Linked DNA regions of Homo sapiens. The protein of the gene in region 1 purifies or fractionates together with the protein of each later gene. This does not show direct contact. Each region holds a gene or a part of one and is shown on either strand. Other genes may lie near its edges.

Region 1 (3,649 bases):
ACCCCACCAGGACTGGTCTAAATCCCGGCACTGGACAGAACCCCACCAGAACTGGTCCAAATCCCGGCACTGGACAGAACCCCACCAGAACTGGTCCAAATCCCGGCACTGGACAGAACCCCACCAGGACTGGTCCAAATCCCGGCGCTGGACAGAACCCCACCAGGACTGGGCCAAATCCCGGCGCTGGACAGAACCCCACCAGGACTGGGTCAAATCCCGGCACTGGATAGAACCCCACCAGGACTGGGCCAAATCCCGGCACTGGATAGAACCCCACCAGGACTGGGTCAAATCCCGGCACTGGACAGAACCCCACCAGGACTGGTCTAAATCCCGGCACTGGACAGAACCCCACCAGGACTGGGCCAAATCCCGGCACTGGACAGAACCCCACCAGGACTGGGTCAAATCCCGGCACTGGACAGAACCCCACCAGGACTGGGCCAAATCCCGGCGCTGGACAGAACCCCACCAGGACTGGGCCAAATCCCGGCGCTGGACAGAACCCCACCAGGACTGGGCCAAATCCCGGCACTGGACAGAACCCCACCAGGACTGGGTCAAATCCCAGCACTGGACAGAACCCCACCAGGACTGGTCTAAATCCCGGCACTGGACAGCACCCCACCAGGACTGGGTCAAATCCCGACACTGGACAGAACCCCACCAGGACTGGGTCAAATCCCAGCACTGGACAGAACCCCACCAGGACTGGTCTAAATCCCGGCACTGGACAGCACCCCACCAGGACTGGGTCAAATCCCGACACTGGACAGAACCCCACCAGGACTGGTCCAAATCCCGGCGCTGGACAGAACCCCACCAGGACTGGGCCAAATCCCGGCGCTGGACAGAACCCCACCAGGACTGGTCTAAATCCCGGCACTGGACAGAACCCCACCAGGACTGGGCCAAATCCCGGCACTGGACAGAACCCCACTAGGACTGGGTCAAATCCCAGCACTGGACAGAACCCCACCAGGACTGGGCCAAATCCCGGCGCTGGACAGAACCCCACCAGGACTGGGCCAAATCCCGGCGCTGGACAGAACCCCACCAGGACTGGGCCAAATCCCGGCACTGGACAGAACCCCACCAGGACTGGGTCAAATCCAGCACTGGACAGAACCCCACCAGGACTGGTCTAAATCCCGGCACTGGACAGAACCCCACCAGGACTGGGCCAAATCCCGGCACTGGACAGAACCCCACCAGGACTGGTCTAAATCCCGGCACTGGACAGCACCCCACCAGGACTGGGTCAAATCCAGCACTGGACAGAACCCCACCAGGACTGGTCTAAATCCCGGCACTGGACAGAACCCCACCAGGACTGGGCCAAATCCCGGCACTGGACAGAACCCCACCAGGACTGGTCCAAATCCCGGCACTGGACAGAACCCCACCAGAACTGGTCCAAATCCCGGCACTGGACAGAACCCCACCAGGACTGGTCCAAATCCCGGCGCTGGACAGAACCCCACCAGGACTGGTCCAAATCCCGGCGCTGGACAGAACCCCACCAGGACTGGTCCAAATCCCGGCGCTGGACAGAACCCCACCAGGACTGGGCCAAATCCCGGCGCTGGACAGAACCCCACCAGGACTGGGTCAAATCCCGGCACTGGATAGAACCCCACCAGGACTGGGCCAAATCCCGGCACTGGACAGAACCCCACCAGGACTGGGTCAAATCCCGGCACTGGACAGAACCCCACCAGGACTGGTCTAAATCCCGGCACTGGACAGAACCCCACCAGGACTGGGCCAAATCCCGGCACTGGACAGAACCCCACCAGGACTGGGTCAAATCCCGGCACTGGACAGAACCCCACCAGGACTGGGCCAAATCCCGGCGCTGGACAGAACCCCACCAGGACTGGGCCAAATCCCGGCGCTGGACAGAACCCCACCAGGACTGGGCCAAATCCCGGCGCTGGACAGAACCCCACCAGGACTGGGTCAAATCCAGCACTGGACAGAACCCCACCAGGACTGGGTCAAATCCCGGCACTGGACAGAACCCCACCAGGACTGGGCCAAATCCCGGCACTGGACAGAACCCCACCAGGACTGGTCTAAATCCCGGCACTGGACAGAACCCCACCAGGACTGGGTCAAATCCCGGCACTGGACAGAACCCCACCAGGACTGGGCCAAATCCCGGCACTGGATAGAACCCCACCAGGACTGGGTCAAATCCCGGCACTGGACAGAACCCCACCAGGACTGGTCTAAATCCCGGCACTGGACAGAACCCCACCAGGACTGGGCCAAATCCCGGCACTGGACAGAACCCCACCAGGACTGGGTCAAATCCCGGCACTGGACAGAACCCCACCAGGACTGGGCCAAATCCCGGCGCTGGACAGAACCCCACCAGGACTGGGCCAAATCCCGGCGCTGGACAGAACCCCACCAGGACTGGGCCAAATCCCGGCACTGGACAGAACCCCACCAGGACTGGGTCAAATCCCGGCACTGGACAGAACCCCACCAGGACTGGGCCAAATCCCGGCACTGGACAGAACCCCACCAGGACTGGGTCAAATCCCGGCACTGGACAGAACCCCACCAGGACTTGGGTCAAATCCCGGCACTGGACAGAACCCCACCAGGACTGGGCCAAATCCCGGCACTGGACAGAACCCCACCAGGACTGGGTCAAATCCCGGCACTGGACAGAACCCCACCAGGACTGGGCCAAATCCCGGCGCTGGACAGAACCCCACCAGGACTGGGCCAAATCCCGGCGCTGGACAGAACCCCACCAGGACTGGGCCAAATCCCGGCGCTGGACAGAACCCCACCAGGACTGGGCCAAATCCCGGCACTGGACAGAACCCCACCAGGACTGGGTCAAATCCCAGCACTGGACAGAACCCCACCAGGACTGGTCTAAATCCCGGCACTGGACAGCACCCCACCAGGACTGGGTCAAATCCCGACACTGGACAGAACCCCACCAGGACTGGGTCAAATCCCAGCACTGGACAGAACCCCACCAGGACTGGTCTAAATCCCGGCACTGGACAGCACCCCACCAGGACTGGGTCAAATCCCGACACTGGACAGAACCCCACCAGGACTGGGCCAAATCCCGGCGCTGGACAGAACCCCACCAGGACTGGGCCAAATCCCGGCGCTGGACAGAACCCCACCAGGACTGGGCCAAATCCCGGCACTGGACAGAACCCCACCAGGACTGGGCCAAATCCCGGCACTGGACAGAACCCCACCAGGACTGAGTCAAATCCCGGCACTGGACAGAACCCCACCAGGACTGGGCCAAATCCCGGCACTGGACAGAACCCCACCAGGACTGGGTCAAATCCCGGCACTGGACAGAACCCCACCAGGACTGGGCCAAATCCCGGCACTGGACAGAACCCCACCAGGACTGGGCCAAATCCCGGCACTGGACAGAACCCCACCAGGACTGGTCCAAATCCCGGCACTGGACAGAACCCCACCAGGACTGGTCCAAATCCCGGCACTGGACAGAACCCCACCAGGACTGGGTCAAATCCCGGCACTGGACAGAATCCCACCAGGACTGGTCCAAATCCCGGCACTGGACAGAACCCCACTAGGATTGGTTCAAAAATTAAAGTTCTGGAAGATTCTGTTCTGCTATGTGATTACA
Region 2 (3,649 bases), on another chromosome or scaffold:
GCGATCTTAGCTCATCGCAACTTTCGGCTCCCGGGTTCAAGTGATTCTCCTGCCTCAGCCTCCAGAGTAGCTGGGATTACAGGCATGAGCCACCACGCCCAGCTAATTTTGTATTTTTAGTAGAGGCGGGGTTTCTCCATGTTGGTCAGGCTGGTCTCGAACTCCTGACCTCAGGTGATCTGCCCGCCTCGGCCTCCCAAAGCTCTGGGATTACAAGTGTTAGCCACTGTGTCCGGCCACCTCTGGCTAAGTTTTTGCCAGTTTTTGTCCCTCTACTTTTCTCCCTCACTTGGCCACAATAAATACTGTTTTTTTTTTTTTTTTTTGATAAGATGTATGCATGGTTCAAATGCTGAGACAAAAGTTGGGGCTGACACACAACAAAAGACATGCATAACATTATCACGTGATCACAATAACTGTGATGCATAACAATTATGAAAATTTTAAATTGTGCAATTTAACCCCCTCCCCATCTCTTGCCAAGTACTATTAGATTTGGAAATGTTACTGGTAGACAGATGATGTTAGTGAGATACAAGGATATTTGAGAAATGAATTTGAAACTGAATGACCAAACCTTGTACCTATTTCAAACCTTTATACAACAATAAGATAGGCTCTCTGTCACCCAGGTTGGAATGCAGTGCTCAAACATGTCTCACTGCAGCCTTGACCTCCCAGGCTCAAGTGATCCTCCCACCTTGGTCTCCCCAAATGCTAGGATTACAGGTGTGAGCCACTGTACCCAAGTACTTTTTTTTTTTTTGGAGATGGAGTCTCGCTCTATCACCCAGGCTGGTGTGCATGGCGCGATCTCGGCTCACTGCAACCTCCCCTCCTGGGTTCAAGTGATTCTGCTGCCTCAGCCTCCCAAATAGCTGGGACTACAGGTGCCTGCCACCACGCTCAGCTAGTTTTTGTATTTTTAGTAGAGACGGGGTTTCACCATGTTGGCCAGGATGATCTCGATCTCTTGACCTTATGATCTGGCCACCTCAGCCTCCCAAAGTGCTGGGATTACAGGCGTGAGTCACTGCGCCCAGCCCCAAGTACTTAATTTTTTAAACTTCTGAGAGTAAGGAAACACTCTGGAAAACAAATAAGAAAGAGGAAATTGAGAATAAATGTACATGTCTCAATTTATTTAAGAACTATTTACTAAAGAGCAACTGTGTGTGCCAGGATCTTTGAAACTGTTACTCTGGCAACCTAAACTCTATAATCTAGTGCTTAAGACCATGAATATCCTCTCCAGTTTCCTAAGGTCGCCCTGTGACTTCTGCTTGTAGAGTGTGGAGAAACCTTACAAGAACATCAACAGTAGTGGAGTTAAACATCACGGTGCACCGGTGTTTTTTTTTTTTTTTTTTGAGACAGCATCTCCCTCTGTTGCCCAGGCTGGAGTGCAGTGGCGCAATCTCGGCTCACTGCAAGCTCCGCCTCCCGGGTTCACGCCATTCTCCTGCCTCAGCCTCCTGAGTAGCTGGGACTACAGGCACCCGCCACCATGCCTGGCTAATTTTTTGTATTTTTAGGAGAGACGGGGTTTCACCGTTAGCCAGGATGGTCTCAATCTCCTGACCTTGTGATCCTCCTGCCTCGGCTTCCCAAAGTGCTGGAATTACAGGCGTGAGCCACCACGCCTGGCCACGGTGCACCAGTTTACACAGCTTTCTCTAGCACATACCTGCTGGCTGTCCTCCAGGATGCACGGAAGAGAGGATGCATCCTTAAGCTCCATGTCTAATATTCCTTAAATGTCATCACCAATAAACACACTGGTTAAGGAATGTGCCTCGACCAATTCTTTTTTTTTTTTTTTTGAGATGAGTGTTGCTCTGTCGCCCAGGCTGGAGTGCAGAGGAGCCATCTTGGTTTGCTGCAACCTCCACCTCCCGGGTTCAAGCGTTCTTGTGTCTCAGCCTCCTGAGTAGCTGCGATTACAGGTGTACACCACCACAACCAACTAATTTTTGTATTTTTAGTACAGACGGCGTTTCGCCATGTTGGCCAGGCTGGTCTTGAACTCCTGACCTCAAGTGATTTGCCCACCTTCGCCTCCCAAAGTGCCAGGATTAGAGGCGTGGGCCACTGCGCCTGGCCTTTTTTTTTCTTTTTTGAGATGGAGTTTTGCTCTGTTGCCTAGCTTGGAGGGTGTATGAATTTTTAACAAAAAAAGCTTAAAAAGTATAAAATAAAAATTTTTTTAACTAGAAAAACCCCTATAGAATAGGGGGATAAAAAATGTTTTTGTATAGCTGTGCAACATGTTTGTCTTTTGAGTTATGTTATTACAACAGTCAAAAAGTTAAAAAAATCAAAAAGTTCATAAAGTAAAAAAGTTACAGTAAGCTAATTTATTATTTGTATTTATTTATTTATTTTTTTTTTCTGAGACAGAGTCTCACTCTGTCACCCAGGCTGGAGTGCAGTGGTGCAATCTTGGCTCACCACAACCTCTGCCTACAGGTTCAAGCAATTCTTGTGCCTCAGCCTCCTGAGTAACTGGAATTACAGGCATGCACCACCACGCCTGGCTAATTTTTTTATTTTGTAGAGACAGTGTTTCACTATGTTGGCCAAACCAGTCTGAGACTCCTGGCCTCAAGTAATCCGCCCACCTTGGACTCCCGAAGTGCTGGGATTAAGCCATGAGCCACCATGCCTGGCTGATTTATTATTGAAGAAACAAAAATTTTAAAGATAAATTTAGTGTAGCCTAAGTGTACAGTGTTTCTACAGTCTATGGTAGAGTAGTGTCCTAGGCTTTCACATTCACTCACCACTCACTCACTGACTCATCCAGAGCAACTTCCGGTCCTGCAAGCTCCAGTCATGGTTAAGTGTTCCATACAGGTGTACTTTTTTTTTTTTTTTTTTTTTTTTTGAGATGAGTTTCACTCTTGTTGCTCAGGCTGGAGTGCGATGGCATGACAATGGTGCGATTTTGGCTCACCGCAACCTCTGCTGCCTGAGTTCAAGCAATTCTCCTGCCTCAGCCTCCTGAGTAGCTGGGATTATAGGCACCTGCCACCAGGCCTGGCTAATTTTGTATTTTTAGTAAAGACGGGGTTTCTCCACGTTGGTCAGGCTGATCTCGAACTCCTGACCTCAGGTGATCTGCCTGCCTTGGCCTCCTAAAGTGCTGGGATTATAGGTGTGAGCCACTGCGCTCAGCCAATTTTTGTATTTTCAGTAGAGACCGGGTTTTAACATGTTGGCCAGGCTGGTCACAAACTCCTAACCTCAAGTGATCCACCCACCTTGGCCTCCCAAAGTGCTGGGATTACAGGCGTGAGCCACTGTGCCTGGGCTAAAAATCTTTTATACTCTGTTTTTACTTTTTCGATGTTTAGATACACAAATACTTACCACTGTGTTACAATTCCCTACAGTGTTTAGTACAGTAACATACTGTACAGCTTTGTAGCGTAGGTGTGGAGAAGGCTAGACCATCTAGGTTTGTATAAGTATACTTTATGATGTTCGCACAACAAAATCACTTAACATTGCACTTACCATAACTTATCCCTGCCATTAAGTGATAAATGTACTTTTAGCATTCCTTGTCTTTACATTCTAAGCACATACTTTGATTTTAAAACTGGATAAATGTATTACATATTTCCGTCAAAAGAGAAAAAAC

The links. Proteins that work in one complex are often made in the same cells at the same time.
Region 2: the proteins of CEP72 (region 1) and ZKSCAN1 purify together in Homo sapiens (affinity purification with mass spectrometry; 2 studies listed by BioGRID and IntAct, with this or other methods). This does not show direct contact.

The regions. Positions count from the first base shown.
Region 1 is NC_000005.10:629,338-632,986, reverse strand, and holds part of CEP72 (centrosomal protein of 72 kDa), read right to left. Parts: intron 1-3,649. UniProt on the Homo sapiens protein: Involved in the recruitment of key centrosomal proteins to the centrosome.
Region 2 is NC_000007.14:100,025,472-100,029,120, reverse strand, and holds part of ZKSCAN1 (zinc finger protein with KRAB and SCAN domains 1), read right to left. Parts: intron 1-3,649. UniProt on the Homo sapiens protein: May be involved in transcriptional regulation.